Linked DNA regions of Homo sapiens. The protein of the gene in region 4 purifies or fractionates together with the protein of the main gene of each other region. This does not show direct contact. Each region holds a gene or a part of one and is shown on either strand. Other genes may lie near its edges. The genes, in order: PRAF2, ANO6, CABLES2, DLK1, MAP2K7, CSPG5 and MYORG.

The links.
Region 1: the proteins of DLK1 (region 4) and PRAF2 purify together in Homo sapiens (affinity purification with mass spectrometry; 4 studies listed by BioGRID and IntAct, with this or other methods). This does not show direct contact.
Region 2: the proteins of DLK1 (region 4) and ANO6 purify together in Homo sapiens (affinity purification with mass spectrometry; 3 studies listed by BioGRID and IntAct, with this or other methods). This does not show direct contact.
Region 3: the proteins of DLK1 (region 4) and CABLES2 purify together in Homo sapiens (affinity purification with mass spectrometry; 4 studies listed by BioGRID and IntAct, with this or other methods). This does not show direct contact.
Region 5: the proteins of DLK1 (region 4) and MAP2K7 purify together in Homo sapiens (affinity purification with mass spectrometry; 4 studies listed by BioGRID and IntAct, with this or other methods). This does not show direct contact.
Region 6: the proteins of DLK1 (region 4) and CSPG5 purify together in Homo sapiens (affinity purification with mass spectrometry; 3 studies listed by BioGRID and IntAct, with this or other methods). This does not show direct contact.
Region 7: the proteins of DLK1 (region 4) and MYORG purify together in Homo sapiens (affinity purification with mass spectrometry; 4 studies listed by BioGRID and IntAct, with this or other methods). This does not show direct contact.

What each region holds. Positions count from the first base shown.
Region 1 is NC_000023.11:49,070,989-49,075,172, reverse strand, and holds PRAF2 (PRA1 family protein 2), read left to right. Parts: upstream 1-1,170; 5' UTR 1,171-1,185; coding exon 1,186-1,364; intron 1,365-2,522; coding exon 2,523-2,740; intron 2,741-3,164; coding exon 3,165-3,304; 3' UTR 3,305-4,012; downstream 4,013-4,184. Other genes in the region: WDR45 (WD repeat domain phosphoinositide-interacting protein 4), read left to right, coding at 1-37, 261-370. UniProt on the Homo sapiens protein: May be involved in ER/Golgi transport and vesicular traffic. Plays a proapoptotic role in cerulenin-induced neuroblastoma apoptosis.
Region 2 is NC_000012.12:45,348,432-45,352,145, forward strand, and holds part of ANO6 (anoctamin-6), read left to right. Parts: intron 1-86; coding exon 87-200; intron 201-2,227; coding exon 2,228-2,343; intron 2,344-3,714. UniProt on the Homo sapiens protein: Small-conductance calcium-activated nonselective cation (SCAN) channel which acts as a regulator of phospholipid scrambling in platelets and osteoblasts.
Region 3 is NC_000020.11:62,404,368-62,408,781, reverse strand, and holds the start of CABLES2 (CDK5 and ABL1 enzyme substrate 2), read left to right. Parts: upstream 1-1,496; 5' UTR 1,497-1,505; coding exon 1,506-1,867; intron 1,868-1,887; exon of another isoform or gene 1,888-3,892; intron 3,893-4,414. UniProt on the Homo sapiens protein: Unknown. Probably involved in G1-S cell cycle transition.
Region 4 is NC_000014.9:100,725,482-100,729,773, forward strand, and holds the start of DLK1 (protein delta homolog 1 isoform 1 preproprotein), read left to right. Parts: upstream 1-1,410; 5' UTR 1,411-1,587; coding exon 1,588-1,654; intron 1,655-2,914; coding exon 2,915-2,978; intron 2,979-3,454; coding exon 3,455-3,585; intron 3,586-4,292. UniProt on the Homo sapiens protein: May have a role in neuroendocrine differentiation.
Region 5 is NC_000019.10:7,910,299-7,914,012, forward strand, and holds part of MAP2K7 (dual specificity mitogen-activated protein kinase kinase 7), read left to right. Parts: coding exon 1-75; intron 76-154; coding exon 155-274; intron 275-397; coding exon 398-505; intron 506-681; coding exon 682-861; intron 862-951; coding exon 952-1,032; intron 1,033-1,116; coding exon of another isoform or gene 1,117-1,137; coding exon 1,138-1,280; intron 1,281-1,850; coding exon 1,851-1,896; intron 1,897-1,998; coding exon 1,999-2,133; 3' UTR 2,134-3,714. UniProt on the Homo sapiens protein: Dual specificity protein kinase which acts as an essential component of the MAP kinase signal transduction pathway. Essential component of the stress-activated protein kinase/c-Jun N-terminal kinase (SAP/JNK) signaling pathway.
Region 6 is NC_000003.12:47,565,167-47,568,880, reverse strand, and holds part of CSPG5 (chondroitin sulfate proteoglycan 5 isoform 1 precursor), read left to right. Parts: intron 1-3,714. UniProt on the Homo sapiens protein: May function as a growth and differentiation factor involved in neuritogenesis. May induce ERBB3 activation.
Region 7 is NC_000009.12:34,370,399-34,374,112, reverse strand, and holds part of MYORG (myogenesis-regulating glycosidase), read left to right. Parts: intron 1-1,106; 5' UTR 1,107-1,169; coding exon 1,170-3,314; 3' UTR 3,315-3,714.

The DNA.
Region 1 (4,184 bases), on a different chromosome or scaffold from region 4:
GGTCGCAATACTTCCAAGAACGTCAACTCTGTCATTGGTGAGTGGGAACAGCCCCTTGGTTGGGGGTACTGCATGGGGCAAAGGCCTGCAGGTTGGACCTGAAAGGATTTTAGGGCCATGTGAGGCTCAGCTTCATCATCAGTAAGGGGGACAGCACTGGGCAAAGGCCTGGAGGCAGACCCTAGGTCCTGAGATGCCTGAGAGGACTGGAGCCTGTGGCTGTGGCAGCCTCTGACCTTTTACCACCCCCCCTCCCCCAGCCATCTGCGTAGATGGGACCTTCCACAAATATGTCTTCACTCCTGATGGAAACTGCAACAGAGAGGCTTTCGACGTGTACCTTGACATCTGTGATGATGATGACTTTTAAGGACCCTGGGGGCTGTGCTAGGGACCTGCAGTGGCAGAACTGCAGAGCTGAGCCTTGGCAGTGGGGCGTGCTTGGAAGCCACCAGCCAGCAAGCATTAATGGGGCTGGTGCCCACTTTCCACTCAGCAGAGCTATGTCTAAATAAAGAGCTCACTTCCCCCCAGCACTTCTTGATGACTGTGTGCCCCAAGGGCCAGGCCAGAGACCCAGGAAGGCAGCGACCCCTTGGGATCCCTAACCTGGAGGAAATTGCCAGGGACCCAGAGGGAGTGCCCTAATCCAACCTGGGGATTTTTTAAAAGCTTCCTAGGAAGAGATGATCTCCGATGTGATGAATACGAATAAAAGGCCCTTAATGGCATTTACGGCTTGACCTCAGGGGCGGGGCATGGAGTTTCCTGGAGAAATGTGACCCTCTTGGGCGCTGACAGGAAGGAGGTGGAATCCAACTCGGATCCTTGTGACAGTCCCTCCTTTCTTATCTGTCTGGCTACTTTGTGCTTGAGCCGCTGGCACCGCCCGGAGCAGCCCCTGCGGCGCCCCGCGCGGGGGTGGATGGCAGTTTTAAGGGTTGGGAGCATCTCGCTTCGTGGCAAAGGCTTGATTTCCCGGCAGCCTTTGCTGCTTTCCTGAGCGGCGTGTTAGTTGCTTTTCCGGTCACGTGCATCGCCGCCCCTGCGCAATCCACCTAGGAGGTTAGGAAAAAGCTGCCCAGCCCAGACTCCATTTCCCGGTGTGCCCCGCGGTGGCGAGGGGCGTAACGGTTGTTGTAGTCCGGCCCCCTCCTGGCTGGTCCAGCCACATTAACCGGCAGGATGTCGGAGGTGCGGCTGCCACCGCTACGCGCCCTGGACGACTTTGTTCTGGGGTCGGCGCGTCTGGCGGCTCCGGATCCATGCGACCCGCAGCGATGGTGCCACCGCGTCATCAACAACCTCCTCTACTACCAAACCAACTACCTTCTCTGCTTCGGCATCGGCCTCGCTCTCGCCGGGTGAGGGAGGGAGGCGCCGGTTGGCCAGGGACGTCTGCAGAGCGTGGGGGTAGACCCACAGGTCTTTGAGGACCAGGACGGGGAACCTGAGGGGGGTGCAAGGCCGGGAAGGGCGAAGTCAGTAGAGATGGACGGCCTGAGGGGCTTGGAAGGGGGGCCTTGAAGGAGGTGGAGCCTAGTTATAAGGAGGGCCTCAGGGAGATGGAGCCTGGCTGATGAGGAGGGCCTGCGGGGGATGGGGGTCTGCAAGGAAGATATGGGGAGGATGGAGACAAGTGTGGGACTGAAGGGGAAAGTGGGCTGGAAGGTGAACCGGAAAAAAAGGAGGGCCCGAAAGGGGGACATGAGAGTACTTGAGGGGCGTAGGGGGGGTGTGATGTGAATGATGGGGCCAGATTGAGGCCGACCCTGGAGTACTTAGGGCAGAGACCGGGAAATAGACGGTAAAGTTGGAGGGTTTGGAAGATGTATTTATTGGGGATCCGGTCTTGGAGGGGAGCCTGGCTATGATTGGAAGGCGCCAGGGGCAGGTACCTGTTGGGGAACTTGGGCCCAGGAGGAGGATCCATGGTTGGAAAGCCTGAGACCAGAGAGGGATGGAGAATCTGGAGGAAGGACTTGAGCAGTGCTGAAAGTTCAGAGTGGGGCTGACGACCTGGAAGAGGTCCTAGCAATGATGGAGGGAGGAATCTATAGGGAAATGGGAGCCTGGAGGGCGGTTCTATAAGGACCCTAGGCCTGGGGAGAGGGGAACGTGTGAAGACAGAAGGCCTGAAAGAGGGATTTGCAGGGGCTGGTGTTAAAGGGGGAGCTTGCGGGCAGGCTGATGAGGGGCCCTACGGGGGCAGAGTCGGAAGGAAAGTCCAGGGAAGTGTTGGGAGCCCGGGGGTGTGGGGAGTGTCTAGCAGGATGGGAGGGCCTGAAGCGGGGACCTGAGGAAGACAGGACAGTGGAATTGACAAGGAGGAAAGGAGGGGTCTACAAGGGTGAGTCGGGAGCCCTGGCAGATGGGCCTGCTGGAGATAGGGCTGGTGGGAGGATGTGCCAGGCTGGAGTGTCCGGAGACGGGAGACCCTGGCTCTTGGGGCCCAGGGTGGGTGGTGGTCCGGAGGCCGTCTCTCCGCCCGGCCGGCTAGCTTGGTTCCCTTGTACCCGCAGGTACGTGCGGCCACTTCATACGCTCCTGAGCGCGCTGGTAGTGGCGGTGGCCCTCGGCGTGCTGGTGTGGGCAGCTGAGACCCGCGCAGCTGTGCGCCGCTGCCGCCGCAGCCACCCTGCAGCCTGCCTGGCCGCAGTGCTTGCCGTCGGCCTCCTGGTGCTCTGGGTCGCGGGCGGCGCTTGCACCTTCCTGTTCAGCATCGCCGGGCCGGTGCTTCGTGAGTCTCCACTACCCCGAGATAGCCAGGAAAGCAGCCAGAGCATGCTTAAGGCACCAGGCCAGCCCTGCCGGTCCCCGGGTTGAGAGGGGGCTGGGAAACCCGAGGGCCTCGCCACGCCCCCGCTAAAAGCGCCTTCCCGGGCTTCGTTCCCCCTTCTGGGAACACCCCTTTTATTATCGCCTTTCCTATCTCACTCTTGGTGTTAAGTGCCTTCCACTGGCCACGTCCCCGTTACCGGGCGTCTTCCCTGGCCATGCCCACGTTGCCAAGCCAATTACTCGGCCACGCTTTCAGTATCTGAGGCGTCCTGGCTGCTCACCACTCCATTGGCCTGCCTGCGCGCCAATTCCCTTCGGTGGGCCCCGGTTGGCTGCAGGCTGAGGTCTATTCCACTGACCACCCCTCTCGGTGCCGCCCACAGTGATCCTGGTGCACGCCTCGTTGCGCCTGCGCAACCTTAAGAACAAGATTGAGAACAAGATCGAGAGCATTGGTCTCAAGCGGACGCCAATGGGCCTGCTACTAGAGGCACTGGGACAAGAGCAGGAGGCTGGATCCTAGGCCCCTGGGATCTGTACCCAGGACCTGGAGAATACCACCCCACCCCCAGCCCATAATTGGGACCCAGAGCCCTTTCCCAGCACTTAAAACAGGAGCCTAGAGCCCCCTGCCCAAACAAAACAGGACATCTGTGACCGCCCTACCCCCACGCCAGCCCCAAACTAAGATATCCCTCACACCCAGCCCCCATTACCTAGGGACAAGAGTCTTCCCCAGCCTTGAACCCAGGACCAAGAGCCACCTACATCCAGCCCCAAAACTGGCTTCAGGCCAGAGCATCCATGGCCAATTTCAAATTGTGAACCCAGAGACACTCCCATCCACCCTTCTCCATGCTCATCCCCAAACTGGGGCCTGGGGCAAGGCACTCTCAAATCTTGAACCCTGGACCAAAGCTTTTCCAGACCCCACCCTACCTTCCAACCCAGGTCAAGACATTGCCAAATCTTGAACTCAGAACCCAAGTGTTCCATGCCCCTGTGTGGATGGAGTCGGGTATCCTGACTGTTGGACCCCTGGTCCAGGTGATCCCGACCCTCACCAGTCCCATTTGCCTCCCTCCAGCTCTGCTTAGGCATTTTGCCCCTCACCCCAATGTTCCACACCATCGACAACCAAGGGGTGAGGTGGGGACAGGCCTCAGCAGGGAATGGGGCGTATATGTTAGTGTTGCTGCAACAATAAAGCCTGTTGCATCTCTCATGCCAATTTGAGCCTCCTGGGTAAAGTCCTTGTACATTTCAAAGGACAGAAGTGGCCTACTTTTCAATTCTGCTAGACTCTTCCTGAATATGTGGGCTGAAGAGGTGATCTCTGAGGCCCTTCCTTGAACTTATGACCTCTGGATCAGCATTAAAGCACAGGGAAGGACAGGTGCAGT
Region 2 (3,714 bases), on a different chromosome or scaffold from region 4:
GCAGATTTGTGTTACAGTAGTAAACAATGATTGGATTGGTTAATTACACTATATAAACCGCATACTCTATTTTGGAATCTTTTTAGGTTTACTTCATCCTCTCTCGGGTCAAGTATCAAGTGATAAACAATGTTAGCAAGTTTGGGATCAACAGACTTGTAAACTCTGGGATCTACAAGGCAGCTTTCCCACTCCATGATGTAAGTTAAAAGGCAAAAATGAACTAAAAGGCCTTCTGTATACTCTGGTGTTGACAATAGCAAAGGGCTAACTTTCCTGACTGTAAGTTTCTTCCTCAGTAAAATGAAGGGAACATACTGCAAGATTACAAGCTCATTTAGGGTAAGAACTAGGTCTTTTGTTCACAGATGGATCCCAGTTATAAAGATACTCAGTTTTAAAGGAGCGAATGAATGAATGGACAGGACCTCTCTCACAGTTAATGTGTAAAGCAGTATAGATTAGCAGTTAATCTGTGTTAGCATTTCTGAGACCAAAATGCCTGCCCTGCCACTTTCTAGCTGGATGACCTTGTGAAAGTCATTTAGCCTTTCTTCCTCCATTTCCTCATCAATAAGCTGGGGATAAATTATTACCTACCTCCTAGAGTTGTTAAGAGGATTAAATTAATCCATTAAATTAATCCAAATGTTAGTCCCTAGCATATAATAAATACTATTATAAGTGTTAGCTGTTTTCATAATTACTAACAGATGTTATTATCAACCAGAAAAGATTAGTTCTTTGTCAGCAAAATACATGTTAGACCTTCTCATTTATCATTTTCTGCAACATAGACTTTTCTTCCTCATTTGGAATACGATTTTCAAACTGTCCCCTGGAATATCCCTGGGCTTTTAAAAAGGCATCTGTCAGGGTTGTTGTGACAATGGCAGTACCCCAGATGGTTGACATTTTTTTAAGGACTACATTCTGAGACCACAGCAACCCCTCAAATTCAAGAGTACTTCTCTAGCCGAGAACATCTCTCGTGAAATGAAATTTTTAAAATGTGACCACTGTAAATGCAGGGACATTATAACTAAAGCTGTTTAAACTCTGTCATTGAAATAAATTAAATACTATATTATATTGCATTATTACTTTGTTATATTCACTATCAATTTATCTGACTGTGTAAGACCAAAGAAAGTAAAGACTGAGATTGGTAATTGCTACTGTGTAGTACATGTATTTGTGGATAGAGACGATATTGAAATGTACTGAATAACATAATAAAACTAGGACACTAAACAGCAGCTTGATACACATGGAAAAGTAGAGAACAGGGAGCTGGGTGAGGTAAATACTGATCCTAAGAGACCCAATGTAGCCATCCAGCCTGAGAGTCCATGTGTTTTACTTTTGTGCCCCACTGAATTTAGCTAATTGCGAATAACAGGACATGAATTTTGAGGCCACTTGCAAATAGCTGTCACGAATATTAATTTGGGATGCCAGGGTTCTCTAACAGTTGACATTTGCTTTTGGCCATGTCTTTTCCACTAAAGCCTCTTCTAATTGCAGTGGTCCTGTATTCAGGCTAACAAATGGTCCCATGTGGTATTTGAGAGGGAGGTGTGTGAAGGTCAGGGCCTGTGCCCTGATTTGGCTGGGTGGTAATCTGGTTCTAGTGCCAGAAGAAGAAAAATGAGTCAGAAAAAAAGGCAACTGGATTTAAGCAGGAAGTTTTGTTTCTTGAATAAGCTAAGTGTGTAACATGATACCCAGCTTTATTGTTTGTTTTCTGTATGTTATCACAGAATAACTGCTGAACTGGGGGCAAAGAAGCCTAGGTTTTAGAATTGACCCTGCTGCTAACCAGCCAAGGCCTTGGTTTCCCCATTGTCCAAGGAGAGGGGTGGGTTATCACGTGTTCCTCTGGTGTGGTGATTTGGGCACTTGGGTGGCCCAATTTTTCATTGTGTAGGACTGCCCCACTTAAAGCATTTTAAGCATCTCTGGGGCCCTCACAGAGTCCCTGCAGTGCTCCCCAGGATTGTAACACCCAATCGTTCATCCCTGCCCACATTCATAAATGACCCCCAAGGAGGGTAGTACCATGCCTGGTTAAGAATCACTAAAAATTAGATGGTATTTCCACCCTTTCCAGAAGGTGAGGACCCCTTGTTCACAATTGACTATCAAGTATTTGTATCACATTTAAGAAGCAGATTTGTGAAAACACGATGATTATGGTGCTTACATGTTCCCTTCTGCGTCACAGTGCAAATTCCGCCGTCAGTCAGAGGATCCCAGCTGCCCTAATGAACGGTACCTTCTGTACAGAGAATGGGCTCATCCTCGAAGCATATACAAAAAGCAGCCCTTGGATCTTATCAGGTGAGGGGTTGTAGGGAGTACTCCAGGGGGAGGCACTCAGGGTGTTACCCCCACAGCATCTGAATGTGACAGTACTCATCAAGACTCTTGCCAGTGAAGGGAGCTGACCCAGAGTGCTGAGCTTCGTTGGCCAGGGTTTTTATTGAGGCTTAATTATGTGGGCATGATTAATTGAATCATTACCCATCTCCAGTATCATCCTCCCCCTGGAAGATGGCCAGTAATATGTGGCTCAAAGCTCCAGTTCTCCAATCACATGGTTGATCTTCTGGCATGGCCAGCCTCCACCCTGAGTCATCTCATTAGCACAAACTCTCTAGAGGTCCACCATGAGCCACTTCACTGGCATAAACTATCAGGCGTAGTCCTAGGGTCCCACTGTGAATAAAAAGGCACTCCTATCTCTCAGGAAGTTCCAAGGGTTTAGAGGTTACCCACCGCCCAGGAACTGGGATGCAGACCCACCAAATTCCATATTGCACAGAAGTAAATGTTAGATGTAGTTTCTATTGTATGGTAAGACATGTACATTTTCACTCTTTTCTTATGTCTGCCTCTAGGTTCTATTTCGTTGTATCTCACAAGATACAATGACTAGCTCAAGAGTTTTTCTTCCCAAGGTACCCTGTTGGTTTTCCTCCAGAAGCTTACGTTGTTTGGGCAGGGCTGAGGATTCTGGCTTGTGGGAGATAGACCAAGAACACCCAAACAAGCCAATAAAACATGAAAATAAATAAACAGAATTTCTAATGGAAGTGAAGAAAATAACAGAGCAATAGGATGGGAGGGCAGAGTGGGAAGTGAGTTGAGGGAGTTATCTTTGAGGAGGTGACTTTTAAGCTGAGATCGGATAGTGAAGAGGAGCCAGTGCTTTGAGGACTTGGCAGAAGTCCTTCTAGGAATAGGGGCAGCTTGTACAGTGGCCCTGAGATGCACACACATTTGGCAAGTTTGAGGAAACATCAGAGACCAGTGCTAGTGAGAAACAGAGCAAGACATGAAGTTAGAGGGGTGGCAGGAGCGCCGAAAAGAGTTTAGACTTTAATTGCAGTGAGAAGCAGTTGTAATATTTTAAATGTTTAAGTCATTGTATCCTATTCACGTTTTGCAGATAATGTGGAGAATGGATTATAAGGGGTACAGGGAGCAGGGAGACCACTAGGTAGGAGGCTGTTTGAGCCAGGCAGAAGACTGTGGGAGCAGATTTGGGATGTGTTTGGGGAGTCGGGTCGACAGGACTTGTTTATGGATTGGATGTGGAGAGTGACGAGGAGAGGAGAGTTAACTTCATGTCTGTCTGGAGCCACGTACCTGTTTTTTTATGGTGTCTCAACACCCCATGCACTTGCCACCTACTTGAGAAAACTACTA
Region 3 (4,414 bases), on a different chromosome or scaffold from region 4:
AGCTGCTGGTGTATGGCCCACCCTCCCCTGTCAGGCCCCTCCTCCTGGTGATAGCCAGCAGGGATGGAGGGCCCACTGTGTGCCTGCCCCAGCCTCAGCACCCTACAGCGCTGGACACACTCACTCCCCGCTCACGGGAGCCCCCAGGCACACAAGTCAGCACCCCATTCTGTGGATCCAGAATCCGCAGCCACCCCTCTGCTATGCCACCCAGCCCCGCGTTCTCCTAGACAGGACAGCTGCCCACCTTCCCCTAGGCCTGGCAGAGGCCTTGGAGGCCAACTTGGAAGGGCGGAGGGAAAGGAAATGGAGGTGCTGCATGCTGCGTGAGCCCCAATGGTGGCCCGTGAAGGCCCACAGGAGGGAGCAGGCAGGCGGGAGGTGGGTAGGGGCCTGAAGGGCAGGGGCCCATGCTAGGGGTGGTGATGAAGACCCTGTCTTGCCCACTCGCCCACTGCCTTGTTGGCCATCATGCTGCCTCCCCACACACCAGGTGCTCCTAGGGCCAGCGCTGTGCCTGTCGGTCCCACCGGGTCCCCAGCACCCAGCACAGGAGAGGCTGGGCGCATGCGGGCAGGTGCGAGGTACTGCAGCGCATTCGCGGACTGACCACTGCATGTGCCTGGCCTCCGGCCACAGCCCGACCCCCTCACTGAGCCAGTTTCATCCTGACAGTACCCTGAGGCTGAAATCATTGTCCCCTCTTTAAAGATACGTAAACCCATGAAAGAAAGCTGGACAGAGCAGGCAGGTGACACAGAGGTGGGTGCAAGGTCCTGAGTCCCTCCACAAAGATACAGCGGGTTCCCCTCCAGACTGCAGACAGGCTCCCGGGCTCCAGAGGCAGGCCCTGACCATCCCGGTGCCACGGGCTCACAGGTTCTGAAGTCAGGGGCACCCAGGCACAGAGAGGAAACAGGCCTGGGCACAAGGCAGGCTCAAGGTCACTTTGCTACTGCAGGAAGTGCAGGACTCTGCCTGGGGCTTTGATCCCAAGCAGGTGCCTTCTCCACTCAGACCCTCGTTCCCTTCTGTCAATGAAGGAGGCCAGATGGCACGCGGGCCCTTCCGGGAAGCGGTGGGGCTCCTCCAGGGGCCGCCCTGCGCCCGCTGAAGCGCCGCCCAGACACACCTCCGGACAGGGAAGTGTGCTGGGGCCTCACCCACGCCGCCCTGGGTCCGGAGCCTTAAAATGTGCGCTCGATGGAGGCCATCCGCGAAGGCCGCCATACAGCAAAGGGAACAGAAAGCGAGAGCCCCGCGGCCGCAGGTCCCAAGACGGGGACTCGAACCGGCGGGGAGGCGCGCAGCTCCCGACTCCCTGCTGCTGCGTCCGACCGCCTCTAGGACCCAGGGGAGCGCCCTGAGCGCGGCACCTCGCTGGCCAATGGGAGAGCGCGACGGCGATACATTTGCATGTGGGCGCGCCGCGGCCAATGGGCGGCGGGCGCGCGGGCGCGCGGGCAGGGGGTGGGGCGCTTCGCGGCGGCGGGCGCAGTCTGAGGATGGCCGCGGCCGCGGCCGGTGGAGCCCCGGGCCCGGCCCCCGGCCCCGCCGGGCCCCCGCCACCCGCCGCGCCGACCTCGGCCGCTCGGGCCCCGCCGCAGGCGCTGCGGAGGCGCGGGGACTCGCGGCGCCGCCAGGCCGCGCTTTTCTTCCTCAACAACATCTCCCTGGACGGGCGGCCCCCGAGCCTGGGCCCGGGCGGAGAGAAGCCCCCGCCGCCGCCCGCCGAGGCCCGCGAACCGCCAGCGCCGCCGCCGCCGGAGCCCCCCACCGGGCTGCCCGCCAGGACCCCCGCGCCCCAGGGCCTGCTCAGCCCCACGCAGGTGCCCACCGGCCTCGGCCTGGATGGGCAGCGCCAGAGGTGAGTGGGGGCCCGGCCAGGTCAGCCCAGGACGCGGGGTACAGGGACGGGGACGGGGGCCGGATCAGCCCAGGACTAGGGGTCAGGATTACTTGGGGCCTCATCAGCCCAGGACAAGGGGGTCAGGTGACCTGGGGCCTTGTCAGCCCTGGACAGAGGCCAGGACAAAGGGGTTGGGTTCACCTGGGGCCTTGTCAGCCCTGGACAGAGGTTCAGGTGACCTGAGCCCCTGTCAACCCAGGACACAGGGGTCAGGGTCAGTCTGGGCCCTCATCAGCCCAGGACACAGGGGTTGGGTTCACCTGGGACCTTGTCAGTCCTGGATACAGAACTGGGGGTTCCTGGGCTGGCTGAGGGTTTCCTCAGGCCCTGTCACCCCCCACACATAGGGTTCATTGTCCCCTGAATTCTCCCAGCCCCTGAATACGGGGTCTGGATCTCCACGTTGTCAGTGCTCTGAAATGGGTTTTAGGGTTCAGCCCTTATTACCCCTGAGACCCCCAGCCCTGTGGGTTCTGGACATGCCCCCACCCCCATCCACTGGTACCAGTGCCCGGGACACAGGGACACATGGACAGCCCTGTGCATCTCTTCGCATTCTTTGAACCGGGCCACACCGTCCATGCCCACCTCCTCAGACCCAGCATGTGGGCCGGGGTCCTCCTGGCACTGTCACTGACACCTGTTCCCAGAGGCCCCTGCACAGCCACATCTCCCATCCCACAGCCACTGGTCTCTGGCACCCCTCCTCTCCCTGTCACTTCCCTGCTGAGCCCCGCCCTTCCCCACATCACTCTCAGCTCGGTATCTTTGGGTCTGTCACACCCTGGGTCTCCACTGCTCCCCCTGCCTTGATTCCATTTCTGGGAACCACCTCAGCCCATCCCAGGGCAACCCCAACCATGAGCCCTGCCTGTCCAGCGTGTGCCCCCTGCCCAGATGGCCCCTGGCTGCCCGACACCCTGTGTCCTTCTCCCAGAGACCACAGGACCTGGGTGACCCTGCCTCCCACAGCCCTCACCTCCAGGAGTGACTGTGGGCTCTGGGCCCAGGACTGGCTGCTTGTTGCGGTTCCTTCTCAAAGGGAGCCACTGTCCACAGGTCCAAGTGCCTGCTGGGCGGCTGTTCCCAGAGGCAGCCCCTGCAGGTGTGCAGCAAAGGGGCCGACACAGAGCTCTTGGGTCAAGGCTGGCACGTGCTCCTTGCTTACCTGGAGGTCATCAGAGTTGCCCCACGCCCCTGGCCTTCGGGCAGGTGGAGGCATTGGGTTCCTCTAAGGTCTTTGGTTGGGGAAGTTTGGGCCCAGAACACAGCACTCTGTCCTCAAAGACTATGACGTCACATGCAGGTTGCGTCACACGCAGGTCGCGGTGCACTCCATCCTTGGAAGTGTTCCTGGCCGTAGCCAGGCTGAGGGTGCCTGCAGACCCAGGCCTGTCCACAAGATGTCCCCCCACGGACATGCCTGGCCGCTGCTCCAGGGAGGGTCAGAGGGATGATTGGGGCAGAGGGATGGATTTGCCCAAATGTGGCAGCCAGGCCCCATGCATTTGGCATGGCCAGCTCCTTCAGGAAGGCGGGAGAGATGGAACAAGGTGGTGACTCTCCAGGGCAGAGCGGCAAGGCCCTAAGGTGTGGACTCCAGGGGAAGCGGGCTCACCCCAACGGGCCGAGCTCCGCAGGTGTGGTGGGCTTTTCCCTAACCCCGGGCCCTGTTGTTTGACATGGAAACAGCTTTCTCCCTCAGTCCTGCATGTTGAGTGTCCAGAACCGGATGGTGACACCAGGCAGACTGGGTGCTGTCATAGGCCCTCCTTCCACAGAGTTCATGCACCCCTGTGTGCACCAGGCCTGGCGTGGAGTGGAGCCCACTTGAGTGGAGGGAGGCAGAGCGTGGCGACGCGCAGGGAAGTGCCTGTGACTGAGAAGGCACCCCCTGCAGGCCCAGAGCCTCCATGGTGACAGTTCTGAGCGCAGCATGCTGCCCACGTGCAGCACATCCCTGCCCTGTGGGATTGTTAGAAGGTGCGCTGTGGCCGGCATCCCTGGGACAGGATGGGACGTGGCATGGGCTGGGTGCCTGCAGTCCTCCTGCCGTACCCACCATGGGCCCAAGCGCCACCACCCCTTGCCTTGCCCAGGGCTGTCTCCTCCCTTCCCTCCTCCTTGGCCCCCATGTCCCTGTTCAGGTCTTTCCTGAACCCCACTCTGTTCCTGGAGGGGGAGGCGTCCCTCCTGGGGCTCTGCTGCCAAGTTCGTGGTGCTGACCTTGTTTCTGAGGGCCATGGCCCCTCCCTGATAGGTAGACCCCAGCGTGAGGACGTCCATTTCACCCTGCGTTCCCTGGGCCTGGCTGCTGATCGAGGGAAGGGTGGCTGCCCCGGCAAAAGGGGCTGCTAGCTCCTGGCTTGAGAGTTCTAGGATGAGTTGGTTTCAGGAAATGGAGAGAATTCTGAAAGTCCTGAAGGCAGCCCTGATGTTGGTCTTGTGAGTGTGGTGGTTTGACCTGGGCTCTGGGAACAGACTTGGCTTGGAATCCCAGCTGCA
Region 4 (4,292 bases):
CCTGCATCTAGGATATGTATGCAAATTAATATATGCAAATTAAGTATCCTAAACGACCCACCCAAAGATTGGGACGCCTGGGACCCTTCCCCCAGGAGGTGAAATATCTTTAATCCCCTCCTACCCCTCTCCCTCCCTATCTTTCTGAGCCTCCCCCATCCAGACTGGGTGCAGGGGTGCAGAGCTTTCCTCTCCAGCAGGGCTCTAAGCCTAAGCCGGGGGCAATGGGGAGGAGGGGTGTCTGAGGAGCACTCCCTCTCCCTGGGAGCTCTGCAGAGGAAGAGGGTCTCTGGCAATCAGCATCCTCTACCTCCACCTCTCCAGCGGGCGACCCCTCAGAGAAGGTCTCCCAGTGAGTCTGGAATACGTGCCGAGTGCCTGGAGTGCTATTGTGTGTATGTGAGAGCACATTGGTGAGGCTGCCCATGCATGCCACTGTGGACAAAGACAGATGCGATCGTGTGTGTGTGGGGACTGCGTATATGTTTTTGTCAGTGTGTGTGACCACGAGTCAGCTGGGTATGTGTGCTTGTGGGTATCAGGTGCATGGCTGTGCGTACATGTGTGCGTAAGAGTCGGTGCATTTGTGTTTCAGCGCGGCTAAGGCCCTGACTGAGATGCTGTGTGTGCGGGGGTGGGTGTGACTGAATGCGGGCACGGGTGTCCGTCTGTTTATACGTGTGTTTGCGTGTTTGGGTGTGCAGGTGGCTCTGCGTAAGCGTCTGTGTGCAGGGGGTCGGCACATGGGGGAGGATGCCCATGGTTGGGTAACCGCAGGTCCGCTTGACCCTCTGCCACCTAGGACTGTGTCTATACGGCGTCTGGGCTACAGTGTGTTTGAGTTGCCGTGTGCGTTTCCGTTGCGGGGTGTGGGTTGCCACGGGGCAACTGCATTTTTCTGCGTCTTCATGGCCAGGGGTACAGGGGGCGTCGGGCTTTTCCTGGGGGTTTTTCTGTGTGCGTGTGTAATTATGTGCTTAGTTCACATCTTCATAGTGCGCCTTTGTGTTTTCCTGGGTATCTAACCATTGCACGTGTGCCCGGGACTTCAGCGATAAGTGTTTCGGTGTTCCTGCGTGCGGATTTGTGCTCTCCGGGGAGGTCTGCGGCCCAGGTTCGATTCCTGCGACTTGTCCTAGGCAGGCCTGTATGTGCGCGGCGGCCGCGTGCTGTACAGTGTGAGGGAACGTGTACCAAACGCTCGCGGGATACCTGTGCCCGTCTAGCCAAGAGTGCACCCGTGTGCGCGAGCGGGCTTCTGGGACGCCGCCGTGGTCGGGGGCGGCCCTGCGAGGGGAGGGGGTCACAGGGACTGGCCGGCGCCGGCCCCGTGCGCACGGAGGCGGGGGCGGGGGGCGGGGGCCGCGAGGGGGGAGGCGGTACGAAAAGGGCGGCGCGCGCGGCGGCGGCGGCAGCTCCCCGGCAGCGGCGGTGGAGAGCGCAGCGCGCAGCCCGGTGCAGCCCTGGCTTTCCCCTCGCTGCGCGCCCGCGCCCCCTTTCGCGTCCGCAACCAGAAGCCCAGTGCGGCGCCAGGAGCCGGACCCGCGCCCGCACCGCTCCCGGGACCGCGACCCCGGCCGCCCAGAGATGACCGCGACCGAAGCCCTCCTGCGCGTCCTCTTGCTCCTGCTGGCTTTCGGCCACAGCACCTATGGTGAGTTCCCCGGCGGCCCGGCTCGCGCCCCCTCTGGGGAAGCCTGCGACTCCCCGCCGGCCGCCCGGTGCCCCGCACGCCCCGTCTCGTGAGCCCCAACTCCGCCCGTCCCGCCTAGCCCTAAGCCCCGCGCTGTGCCTGTCTCGCCCTACCCACCACGCTCGCATGCCAAGGCCCGTCCCAGGGGTCCCAGGGCGCAGGGGATGTGTGAGACCCCCAGCCCCTTCCCGCCCTGCAGAAGTGGCGCCAGAGGGGTGTCGGTGCGCTGAGCAAGGAGGTATGGAAAAATGGGGTGCTGTTGTGGAGTCTTCTATGAAAATACTCTGGGGTGCAACTTTGGGGTGTCCCTGTGTGAGCGTTCTGGAACAGGTCTCGGGGCGGGAGTGGGGGACGACTTTGCCGTCTTAGCCCCCAATTCCCAGAGAAGCCCAGCCTGAGCCCTTCCTGCGTGGCGCGTTTCTGTAGGTGAGGGGCTGCGACACTTCTGTCTGCAGCGGCCATCTGTCTCTGACAGCGAGAGAGTTGCCCCCTTCCTGCAGCGCCCCCCCACTCATTGCACCAGTGGTTGTAAGGGGGCTGTCTAGAAAGCTGGGGAGCTGGTTGAGTAAATGCACACAGTAGGTGCCTGTTAAAGTGTCAGAATCTCTAAGCAGTGTTGTTGCAACCTCAGCCCGCTAAGCAAAACCCTGTGTCGTCATCGTTTTTTTAATGCGAAGAGTCTGGGGTAGGGGAAAGAGGGAAGATTTGACCTGGGTGCCCGGCTTAATAGGGATGAACCTTAAAAAGAATGCAGACGCCTTACTGGGGCGCCCACCAGGTGAACCTGTCTGGGCTTTCCCGGAGTTGAACACCTCAAAATCTGCTCCTCTTTTCAGCTCAGGTTGCAAAAGTGACGGTCAGGCTGCATGCCCAGGGCTCAACATATTTCCCTCCACGGTCCCCGTCCCCGCTGTTAGGAGGACTTGAGGTGTCGTATTTGCTTTTGGGAGTCCGAGGAGAAGGTGTTTCTCCTGCTCCTAAGAACGAGGGAGAGTGTACTGTGGTCATTTCATTGCTGGGAACGTGGCAGAGATGTTTTTCCTGAGTGCACTGAGCCCCATCCATGCTCGGATAGGAAGTGCCTACTGTGTGCCAGGCTGGTAGGACCCAAGAGGGCTGTTGGTGCCCTCGAGGGCAGTGGTGGGCTGTGTGGGCGAAGACAGCCTTTGCCTTGGCCTGGGGCCTGGTGGGGTGAATTGTATAACCTTTCTTGTACCTCAGGGGCTGAATGCTTCCCGGCCTGCAACCCCCAAAATGGATTCTGCGAGGATGACAATGTTTGCAGGTAATAGAGTGGCTCCTCAGAGGCAGCTTGTAGGGGCCACGCAGAAGCCTGGGGAGTCGTGAAGTCAGGCAGAAAAAAATAGGGGGCTTGGCCACTACGCTGCAGCAAACAGCTTCCGGGCCCCTGCAGAAAACTGGTGGGGCGAGCTGGGGAGATGGGGGGGGCGGGGGGGGGGCAGCCACAGCTCCTGTCTGCGTTCTCAGAGGTGGGGGGGCAGGTGGGACCACTGCAGGCCACTGCGGCAAAACGCAGCACTCCCCCGGGATCTCGGGGCCCCTCCAAGTCGGCCCCCTCAGCTTGGCATGTTTTCTCTTTAAGTTTTCCCATTCAGGTGGCTGGTGTTTACTTCCCAGGACCACCGGCTGCCACTGTGCAAAGACCCCCAAGGGTCCTTGGTTCCACAGAAAGTAGCCTGAGCTGCCTCTCTACCCCTGCCCTCTTCATATGTCCCCACCTTTCTCCCCCACCCATTGCAGGTGCCAGCCTGGCTGGCAGGGTCCCCTTTGTGACCAGTGCGTGACCTCTCCCGGCTGCCTTCACGGACTCTGTGGAGAACCCGGGCAGTGCATTTGCACCGACGGCTGGGACGGGGAGCTCTGTGATAGAGGTTGGCACTCGCCTTTGTTCACCTCAGCTCTGCGTCCTTACCTGCCTGCCCTAGCCCCTACCACCTCCTCCCAGTCTCCTGTTGCTGGTGTTCCTCACTTCCTCATTCCTGCACACTCCGTGCCCTGTATTCTAAAGATCTGTTTATAAATTTCCTGTGGGTACCGAATGCCTCCTCAGAGGTAGGGACTTTATTTTGCTCTTCTCTGCGCCATCAGCACCCAGCACCTAGAGGGAACATGGCGTGGGGGCCAGGGAGCTGCCTGTTGAATAAAGAGTCACAAAATACACATACAGCTGGGCCGGTGGGACCACAGACCCCAGGCTGCCTGTCCAGGTCATGGAAGCCCAGTGATGGACAGGGCTCTGGGGATCTCAGAGCTAAGACTCCCTAGAAAAGCACACGCAAGACTGTAAAGAGGCTGCAAACAAACAAACGGGGTGGGGGGTGGCCAGCACTGCTCAGTGGTTGAGGGGCAGGTGCTGAGTCAGGGCCAGGAGGACAGGGCTGGGGGGCCTGGACTGAGTGGGTCAGGTGTAGGGGGAGGCTGCAGTTGGGAAAAGCTGAGAAAGGGTTAAAGTGAAGATGGGTGTTATCTGTTGATTTCATTAATTTATGCAATCTTTGCCTCCATTACCCCAAGCAATTGAGAGTTGGCTGTCACTGCATTTTCAGGCTGCGAAATGTTCGTCTAAGCCCATTTTCAT
Region 5 (3,714 bases), on a different chromosome or scaffold from region 4:
GAGATGGGCAGCGGCACCTGCGGCCAGGTGTGGAAGATGCGCTTCCGGAAGACCGGCCACGTCATTGCCGTTAAGGTGAGCCTTGGCGGCTACCCCGGCTGCGCCCCACACCCCAGGCCGGTGCTGAGGCTCCCTCCTGTCCCTGCCTGTGCAGCAAATGCGGCGCTCCGGGAACAAGGAGGAGAACAAGCGCATCCTCATGGACCTGGATGTGGTGCTGAAGAGCCACGACTGCCCCTACATCGTGCAGTGCTTTGGGACGTTCATCACCAACGTGAGTACCTGGCCGCGCCCTGCAGCGTCTCCTCCTCCCTCACCCCTGCCCCTTCCTAGGGAGCAGAGCCTCTGGGGGGTGGGCCGGAAGACACAGCTCCCCCGGGTGCCCCTCTCCCTGCAGACGGACGTCTTCATCGCCATGGAGCTCATGGGCACCTGCGCTGAGAAGCTCAAGAAGCGGATGCAGGGCCCCATCCCCGAGCGCATTCTGGGCAAGATGACAGTGGCGGTGAGTGACCAGGCGGGGCTTGCACTGGGCAGGATGACAGAGGCGGTGAGTGACCAGGCGGGGCGTGCACTGGGCAAGATGACAGTGGCGGTGAGTGGCCAGGTGGGGCGTGCACCGGGCAGGTGGCCTTGGGTCTGTGCCCCCTGCCACATGCACCCCCCTCTGCGTGCCTGCAGATTGTGAAGGCGCTGTACTACCTGAAGGAGAAGCACGGTGTCATCCACCGCGACGTCAAGCCCTCCAACATCCTGCTGGACGAGCGGGGCCAGATCAAGCTCTGCGACTTCGGCATCAGCGGCCGCCTGGTGGACTCCAAAGCCAAGACGCGGAGCGCCGGCTGTGCCGCCTACATGGCAGTGAGTGGGGGCCCCCCAGCGGGGGAGGGGGTGGGGGCTGGGAGGCCGGCCCCAGCCTTGGAGATACGTCTTCTCCTCCCCCCCCTGCAGCCCGAGCGCATTGACCCCCCAGACCCCACCAAGCCGGACTATGACATCCGGGCCGACGTATGGAGCCTGGGCATCTCGTTGGTGAGTTGGGGCCCTCCCCTGTTCTCCAGCCAGGAGTGAGGGCTTCTGGGGGACTCGGAGGGAGGAGAACATAAACCTGTCCAGCCCTGCCCGTCTCCCTCCCAGGTGGAGCTGGCAACAGGACAGTTTCCCTACAAGAACTGCAAGACGGACTTTGAGGTCCTCACCAAAGTCCTACAGGAAGAGCCCCCGCTTCTGCCCGGACACATGGGCTTCTCGGGGGACTTCCAGTCCTTCGTCAAAGACTGGTGAGAACCTCCCTCCACTTGGGAGGTCAGGGACAGCCCGCTGCTCTGGGCAGCTGGGGAGGCAATGGCAGGAGGGGAATGGAGGCCGCACCCTGGGATGGGCGGATGCGACTGTGGGCGGGCTCCTGGCTGGCGGCTGCCACAGGAGCTGGAGCTGGTGCCCAGGGAGCCATGAGCTGGGTTTGGACCTAGCCTGAGGGGACAGCCAGCCCTGTGGCATTTGGCGGGGTGGCTGTTGGAGATTGTGAGCACGCTTCTGCAACAAGCACAGCTACAAGTTCAGGAGGGCCATGTTCGATTCTCTCAGGGGAGCCCCACCCACCTTTCTGGGGGACCTCAGCCAGCTCTGGCCCCCCAAGCCAGGCCCTTGCCACCTGGCCCTAGGCCAGGAGGCTCCGGGACTCACAGTTGCTCCCCGCTGTCAGCCGGGGTCCTGAGGACATCCACAGCTCCTTCCCCCACACACATCTTGGGGACCCCTGGCCCCTTGGGGAGGGCCTGAGCACAGGGGTGGGGCCGGCATCCCCTCCTCCCTCGTTCTCACATCTGTCTTCCCTTCTCTTGCTCTAGCCTTACTAAAGATCACAGGAAGAGACCAAAGTATAATAAGCTACTTGTGAGTACCTGAGCCCTCCCAGTCCCCGTCCTGTCCCTGCGGAGGCGCGAGGCCAGGAGGGAAGACCGTCTCCTCCTAAGCCCCACCCCCTCGGGCCCACAGGAACACAGCTTCATCAAGCGCTACGAGACGCTGGAGGTGGACGTGGCGTCCTGGTTCAAGGATGTCATGGCGAAGACTGAGTCACCGCGGACTAGCGGCGTCCTGAGCCAGCCCCACCTGCCCTTCTTCAGGTAGCTGCTTGGCGGCGGCCAGCCCCACAGGGGGCCAGGGGCATGGCCACAGGCCCCCCTCCCCACTTGGCCACCCAGCTGCCTGCCAGGGGAGACCTGGGACCTGGACGGCCACCTAGGACTGAGGACAGAGAGTGGGGGGTGCCCACCCACCCCCCCCGCCCCGGGCCTACCAAGCCCCCGCCCTTCCCACCCCGGGGTCAGCCGGCCGTGTGCGTCCCCCGACAGACACTGTGAACGGAAGACAGCAGGCCGCGATCAGAGTCGCTGTTCATTCAGCCGCAGCCTCTGGGCCGGGGCGGCCCCCAGGGGCCAGGAGAGAGCCCTGGAGTCCCGCAGCCACCATGCACGCTCCCAGCGTGCTGTGTCCTTCGCCACTCCCACGCGCCCGTTCCTCTTCCGTCGCCCTCTGTCCCCTGCTCTACCTCTCTGTCCTTGTCTGGCTCTCCCGTCACCCTCCCTGCCTCTGTCTCTCTTCTGGCCTGAGCCTGGGCCCAGCCACCTCCTGACGGGTCCCCTGGGTCTGCATAGGTCTCCCATGGCGCAATGAGTCAGTGGCCCCCAGCCAGGCAGTGTGGGCATTGCCACTGCGGCTGGACGGGGCTGCGCGCTCGCGCTCTCTCTCTCTCTCTCTCTCTCTCTTTGATCTCAGGGGGTCCTTTTTGGAGTTTATTGTATTTTATTGTACTTGGTGGGGTGTTTGGGGTGGGGGCGGAGGAGAGCTTGTTCTCGTGGGGTTGTCGGTACCTTCAGAAACTTTTACCAAAGTCACGATTAGCTGCTTGTGGTGGGGCCCCAACCGCCCTCGGGCACTGGGGAGCTGGGCTGGGGCTGCTGCTCTGGGGTCTCCGGGGGCCACAGCTTGGGGTGAGTTGAAGACCTCAGGGGATGTGGAGGGGTCTGCGGGGCCCTGGCCGCACAGGATGGCCTTCAGGGAAGGTGGTCTTGGGGCATGGTGCAGAGCAGGTGACCGGAGGGAATCGGTGACGGAGCGGGGCCAAGGGAGGGGTCCGGAGGGAGTCAGGGATGGAGGGCAGAGGGAGTGGATGTGGGGGTTTGAGGACGTGTGACAAGCTCCAGCAGGGGTGGGGGCCGGGCTGAGGGTGGGGGTGCGAGGTGGTCACTCCCATCGTGCCCCTGGCCGTCCCTCCACTCACCCACACCTGGCCCAGTCCACGTTGAGGTCCAGGACTGGGAAGGACCGGGTGAGTGCACCGGGGACCCAGGCCAGGTGCCCCCCGGAGCCTGCTGGGGTGGCCAGAGCAGGAGGGGGTGTGTTTCCTTTTTGTGGGTGTTGCATGCAAATCAAGTGGACAAGAAAAAATAACAAAACAAAAAACAAGAAAAAAAAAACACAAAACCCCGTAAAATCACAAAGAAAATCCAACACCAAAGGCGCAGAAGCCGGCTGGCCGTGGTGGGGGCAGCGTAGGCGTAGCATCCCTCTCCTCTCACTTAGCCTGTTGACTCTTGTTATTATCATGATATTCACAAAACGCCGCATGTTTAAAAAGTCATAGATGTCATCTTCTCTCTGCCCCCAGGGAGGAAAGCCACCTTCTCTTGCCCCTTGGCCCCTTTGTCA
Region 6 (3,714 bases), on a different chromosome or scaffold from region 4:
AAAAGGTCTTTTTCTTTTTAAAATTTTTGTAGAGATGAGGTCTTCCTGTGTTGCCCAGGCTGGTCTCGAACTCCTGGCCTCAAGTGGTCTTCCTGCCTCAGGCTCCTAAAGTGCTAGGATTATAGGTGTGAGCCACCTGCCTGGCTGAGAAGATCTTTTTCTAGGGTTACTCATGATTTTTAGCTTCATCTAAGCTTTAGAAGTCTGATTATTGTCTTATTTTCCATATCAAGGAGAAAGGCTCTGCTTTCACTGCTGGGGAATTTCATGGTGGTCAGTGAAGCAAACGGTGGTTGCTCTTTGGGATGGGTGGAAAGACTTCTGTGTCCTTGCTGCTATTTGAGGATCCTAAGAACTGGCAGGGTTATACACAGCTGGTTAAGGCCAAGGCCCAAATACAAAACACTGGCAGAGCCTTAAGTCCAGGAGTAATCCTGTTCTTAGGAGTATGGGCTTATAAATATCAGTTGAAATCCAATAAAAGATCCTAATAGACCATTTTCTAAAGACCCTGGCCTAGTGTATTGCCTGGATTAGACTGACCAGTCAAATACTAGAGAGAATTTCAAAAACAAGGCAGAAACCATATCCAAATCTCAAATCATGCCACATCCAAATCCTAGAATTCTCTATATAATGCAGGTTCCATACTTCAAGATAAATGCATTTTTACACAGATTATTACACAGATAAGCAAGTTAAACTGAGACTTCAGACTGAAGCAATGGACTTTAAGAGGAAATTTAGAAGAAGTTCTTAGAAATCATGGACCATAGAGTGTCAGACCTCACAGGGGCCTCAGCACTCTAGACCAATACGGTCCAGTGGAACTTTCTGTGAAATGGAAGTGTTCTATATCTGCTCTGTCTACTACAACAGCCACTAGCCACTTGCGGCTGTAGAGCTCTTAACTACCACATTACACAGTGCAGACCTAGACTCCTGGGCTCAAGTGATACCCCTGCCTCAGCCTCCTGAGTTGCTAGGACTAGAGGCATGTGCCACCACACCTGGCTAATTATTTTAACTTTTGTAAAGTTGAGGTTTTGCCATGTTGCCCAGGCTGGTCTCGAACCCCTGGGCTCAAGTGATCTTCCTGCCGCAGCCTCCCAAAGTGTTGGGATTACAGGTGTGAGCTACCATGCCTGGCCTTCTTCCTTTTATAGATGGGGAAATTGCAGCCCCAGAAGGGGGAAGAGAGAATAAGAGTAAATGTGTGGCCTCATTCACAAAACCCCAGAACAGGAAATTTTGGCCTGGTAGAGGAGAAGTAAATGGGTGAATTTAAATATGAAATGAAAGAGGTAAACTTAGGATAATTTTTTAAAGTCTTTGATATAAAGGGTAGAAAAAGAACAGATTATTTCACTTGGTTTGTACCAAGATACAACAAGTAAGGTCAAGATGAACATTATAACCAAGGAAACACTATGTCTTATAAACTCTAAAATTGGTCACCATGTTCATCAACCCACAGAGGGCAGGACAGAGTCTCGGTGAGCACATTATCCCGCCCTCTGCAGTAACATGCACACAGTTACCACTTGCTGAATACTAGTGAGTGATGGTGGGCTATGGGGGCTCTCAGTTCCATTGGCTGATCTGCCATCCTGCAGATGGCAGCAGGTCTGCCAGGACGGGAGCTCCTGTAGTCAGCATGTTCACTGTCCACGGTTGGACAGAGTCCTCCCACTCTGCTTGACAGAGTGCAAGCATCCTTAGGAAAGTTTCTGACCCTTGTGTTTCTAATACCACAGCTTCAGACACCTTTCTTCTTCTCAGAGGGGGAAAAGAAAGAGCTCCTCTTGGAGGGCTTGGCTACACAGCCGGTGCGAAGGTTTCTTGTTCTTGGCTGATCCAGCTTTGTGGAAAGTGAGGCTTTTGTACCTGAACGCTGCCACTGACCCTTAGTTCAGAAGATGGCAAGCCTTGAAAACAGCAGAGCAGGGGGTGGTCAGCCACGGGAGGGTGGTGGTCGGCCACGGTGTGTGGTTGGCCACAGGCAGTGGTGATCTAGCATGGGGCTTGGGGGTCAGCCACAGGGCGGGTGAGGCTGGTCGGCCATAGTGGGCTCTGCCTGAGACAGGGTGATGGGGTGGCCAGGGCGGCACTCAAGCCATCCCTTAGGAAGCAGCAAGATCTGGCTCTGGTTCTCTCCTGGCTCCTCTTGGATCTTGAGGCTGGTGCCTTTTTTTATTGTAACCAAATACCCAGACTTCAAGGAGATTGAGGCTGGTGTCTTTCCGTCAGCTTGTGCCCAAGGGGACATCATCTTCTCCTCTCTGAAAGCACTGTGGATGTGAGGGGTGACTCTCCTATCCAGCAAGGAATGTAGTGGTGGATTTTCTACCTTCATCTCTAATTCTCTCCACCTCATCCAAAGGTCAAACTTAGTCATATTCAAGATCTTGTGGGCATTGCCGATGAACACGGTTGCCACTTGTTTGTGAAGTGAAGCCCTGCTCACTGCTACAGCCGCCACACTCACTGCCTGCAAGGGGTGCCAGCAGCCGGGGAGAGTGAGAGATCCTCCAGATGATACGGGAGGAGAGACAAGGGGGCGCCGGAGTCCAGCCTGCCTCGTGGCTTCTCCCCACCCCTCTCTCCCCACCCCCAAACTCCTTGCTGGTATTGGTTTTCTCTAAAATTTTGGAGAGTTTTATTTATTTGCATCGAGGTGTTATTTCTTTTACATACGTAAAATAGATTGAGCAGGTCATTTTCCTACACTGTCGCAATCACCTCTACCAGCCACACTCTGAAAAGATTGCAAGCAAAAAAGTCTGGGGCTTTGGGCCTGTGACAGGGAAGGGTCAGTGGCTGGTATCTGTGCCGGTGGCACCTCTTTCCCTCCTCTGCTCCTCTCTGCCCTCAGGCTGATGTGCGGCTCTGTAGCTGGTGGGCCTTAGGCTGAGTCTGTGTGAGTGTCTTGCGTAGCTGAGCAACCAGCCTTGAAGGGTATGTCAGGAGGCACAGAGAATGTAGGAAGCTGCCCGTGCTCCAGGCACACTGCGTGAATGAAGCCACCAGAAACCCAGGGCAGCTGCCCCAACACTGGGCTGCCCTGATGGTCCTCACAACGGTGCTGTCGAGACCATGGGGGTAACTTGGGTTGTGCTAAGATTTGACAGACCTTCCGGGATTTCAGTTTATTCCTAGGATTTCTCCATTGATGTTCCTGTGCTTTTTTTTTTTTTTTCCTATTTAACTCTTTCCTACTCTCCAGACTCTTCTCTTGCATGTATTTGTTAAAGCACTGACTGCCCACCCTCTTCCAATAGATGTTTGCCTCTGGCCAGGCCTGAACCCACATGACCCCTGGGTTGAAGGGTGCCCATACTGCTGGGATTGAATGCTGGGAGCAGTGAGTCCACAGTGGTTCCTAGGAACTTATGCCAGATGTTGATCCAGCTCCCTTGTGATGAGGTACTTCTATTAAGTCAAAGGCAGTTGGACCTGCTGTGGAATTCAGCTACCCTTGGCTTAATAGGATCAAGTTCTGGAGCAAACACCTGAGTTAGGAGAGCCCCATCTTGGTGTAGACATTCCTTTGCCTCTTGTGTTTGTTGGAGGTATTCAGCTTGTCTAATAGCACTGTTTGCATATCTCTTGCTTTTGGGATATGCTTCTTCCATCCCTTGGCTCAGAAGACAGTTTTCTAATCTAGATCCCATGAGCCCTCGAGGGCTCAGGTTTAATCTGGGAGCCCACCTT
Region 7 (3,714 bases), on a different chromosome or scaffold from region 4:
CTGGCCCACAGATGTGGTGCCAGGAGCAAAGCAGGAAGGCAGGCATGGAAATGGATTTGGTGATGGATGATGGCTGAGAGCAGGGTGAGTTTGAGGGCAAAGAGAAGCAGATGTGAGAAACAACTGGCCCCCCATGCCAGGCTCCTGCCCCAGGCCCTAATGTCTGAACCCAACTCTACCTCCCTCCAAACCAGGCCCTGGGACTAAGTCTGGCTTTGGGTGTCTTCTTCAATCTCCAGACTTCATCAGGCTTTTGACTCAGGATAAAAACACATCCCTGAGCTGTTCTCCCTTCCTCCCTCCTCTCCCCCTCTGGGGACAGGGAAGCTAGCCTACCGCCCTGTTAAAAGTCTCAAGGGGGACTGGGCGAGGTGGCTCACGCCTGTAATGCCAGCACTTCTGGAGGCTGAGGCAGGTGGATCACTTGAGGTCATGAGTTCGAAGCCAGCCTGACCAACATGGTGAAACCCTGTCTCTACCAAAAATACAAAAATTAGCTAGGTGTGGTGGTGTGCGCCTTTAATCCCAGCTACTCGGGAGGTTGAGGCAGGAGACCCGCTTGAACCCAAGAGGCAGAGATTGCAGTGAGCTGAGATCATGCCACTGCACTCCAGTCTGGGTGACAGAGAGAGACTCCATTTCAAAAAAAAAAGTCTCAAGGAGCTGGCTGGACAATACCCCCTCTCCCACCCTGACCATCCACACCTCTAGGAGAGCAGGACTTTTCTAGTTCCTTTCCCGTCTCTTCAGCCCGAACGGCCCCATGTGTGATCTGGGGAGGCCTGGCTTATCCTGTGATCCTGGAAAGCTTCCTGACCCTCTCAGGGTTTGTTTCTCCACTAGGAAAATGAGGATGGGTGCCATCTCCCAGTCACATGGGCCGCTCCCCAGTCACAGAGTCCTAATTTGGGCAAGCATTAGGTCCCATGAGAAAGGGTGGGTTAGGCACAGATTGTCCTGGTAAGGGTCTCACCTTTGCCACTCTTCAAGCCCTCAGGTTCCAGTATTCATCTTCCCAAAGTATACACCTCCTCTTAGCTTGCGGCAGCAAATGGAAATATCATGGGATGAGATAGCTCAGTTCCATCTCTGTCTCCTCCTTTCAGAGCAGGTTGAGATGAACTCAGTCAGATGGCCCCACGGCCCGCTCCTTTCTTAGCAGCCCACTAATGCTCCAGAACCCTCAGGAGAAGAGCCAGGCCTACCCCCGCCGCCGCCGGCCTGGCTGCTACGCATACCGTCAGAACCCCGAGGCCATCGCAGCCGCAGCTATGTACACCTTCCTGCCCGACAACTTCTCACCTGCCAAGCCCAAGCCTTCCAAAGACCTGAAGCCGCTGCTGGGCTCCGCGGTTCTGGGGCTGCTGCTTGTGCTGGCCGCGGTGGTGGCCTGGTGCTACTACAGCGTCTCCCTACGCAAGGCGGAGCGACTTCGCGCGGAGCTGCTGGACCTGAAAGCTGGCGGCTTCTCCATCCGCAATCAGAAGGGAGAGCAGGTCTTCCGCCTGGCCTTCCGCTCCGGCGCGCTGGACCTTGACTCCTGCAGCCGCGATGGCGCCCTGCTGGGCTGCTCGCTCACGGCCGACGGGCTGCCGCTGCACTTCTTCATCCAGACTGTGCGGCCCAAGGACACGGTCATGTGCTACCGCGTGCGCTGGGAGGAGGCAGCGCCGGGCCGGGCCGTGGAGCACGCCATGTTCTTGGGCGACGCGGCGGCCCACTGGTATGGTGGCGCCGAGATGAGGACGCAACACTGGCCCATCCGCCTGGATGGCCAGCAGGAGCCCCAGCCGTTCGTCACCAGCGATGTCTACTCCTCCGACGCCGCGTTTGGGGGCATCCTCGAGCGCTACTGGCTATCTTCGCGCGCGGCCGCCATCAAAGTCAATGACTCAGTGCCCTTCCACCTGGGCTGGAACAGCACGGAGCGCTCGCTGCGGCTTCAGGCGCGCTACCACGACACGCCCTACAAGCCACCCGCCGGCCGCGCCGCAGCGCCAGAGCTGAGCTACCGAGTGTGCGTGGGCTCAGACGTCACCTCCATCCACAAGTACATGGTGCGTCGCTACTTCAACAAGCCGTCAAGGGTGCCAGCACCCGAGGCCTTCCGAGACCCCATTTGGTCCACATGGGCGCTGTACGGGCGCGCCGTGGACCAGGACAAGGTGCTGCGTTTTGCCCAACAGATCCGCCTGCACCACTTCAACAGCAGCCACCTGGAAATCGACGACATGTACACACCTGCTTATGGCGACTTCGACTTCGATGAGGTCAAATTCCCCAACGCCAGCGACATGTTCCGCCGCCTGCGCGACGCCGGCTTCCGCGTCACGCTCTGGGTGCACCCTTTTGTCAACTACAACTCGTCGCGCTTCGGCGAGGGCGTGGAGCGCGAGCTGTTCGTGCGCGAACCCACGGGCCGGTTACCTGCGCTGGTGCGCTGGTGGAACGGCATCGGCGCGGTGCTAGACTTCACGCACCCAAAGGCCCGCGACTGGTTCCAGGGACACCTGCGGCGGCTGCGCTCTCGCTACTCCGTGGCTTCCTTCAAGTTCGACGCGGGCGAGGTCAGCTACCTGCCGCGGGACTTCAGCACCTACCGGCCGCTGCCGGACCCCAGCGTCTGGAGCCGGCGCTACACTGAGATGGCGCTGCCCTTCTTCTCGCTGGCGGAGGTGCGCGTAGGCTACCAGTCACAGAACATCTCCTGCTTCTTCCGCCTGGTGGATCGCGACTCTGTGTGGGGCTACGACCTGGGGTTGCGCTCACTCATCCCCGCGGTGCTCACCGTCAGCATGCTGGGCTACCCATTCATCCTACCCGATATGGTGGGCGGCAACGCCGTGCCCCAGCGGACAGCCGGCGGCGATGTGCCCGAGCGCGAGCTCTACATTCGCTGGCTGGAAGTGGCCGCCTTTATGCCGGCCATGCAGTTCTCTATCCCGCCCTGGCGCTACGACGCGGAAGTGGTGGCCATCGCGCAGAAGTTCGCCGCCCTGCGGGCCTCGCTTGTGGCACCGCTGTTGCTTGAGCTGGCGGGCGAGGTCACCGACACGGGTGACCCTATCGTGCGCCCCCTTTGGTGGATTGCGCCCGGCGACGAGACAGCTCACCGTATCGACTCGCAGTTCCTTATTGGGGACACGCTGCTTGTGGCCCCGGTGCTGGAGCCAGGCAAGCAGGAGCGCGACGTCTATTTGCCCGCCGGCAAGTGGCGCAGCTACAAGGGTGAGCTTTTCGACAAGACGCCGGTGCTGCTCACCGATTACCCGGTCGACCTGGATGAGATCGCCTACTTTACCTGGGCGTCCTGACCCAGCCCAGGGCCCGGTAACCGCAAAGCCCCCAGTCTTCATGCAGACCTTGAACCCTCCGTCACACCCGCACCATGTACTCCCAGGAACCTCCCACCTCTATACCACCCATTAAGTGGCTGCTGACTTAAATGTGCTGGAACCAGCTGCTGAAGGTGGGGCCTAGGGAGGGGGCACTGAAGCAATCTCCTGCTCCAACGCACAATCCTTACTGTGCCCTTTCCACCCCCACACTCACACCAATCTGCAGAAACCTCTTCCCTGGGGTGGAAGCCAGAGAGCTTAGAGGAAAAAGGTCAGCTCTCTTCCTGTTATACATGGTTATACATGGTTGGGGTTTAAAAGCACAAAGAGAAACCTCCCCCTCCTGGCTTTCGTGGCCATCTTTGTCCATCTTAGG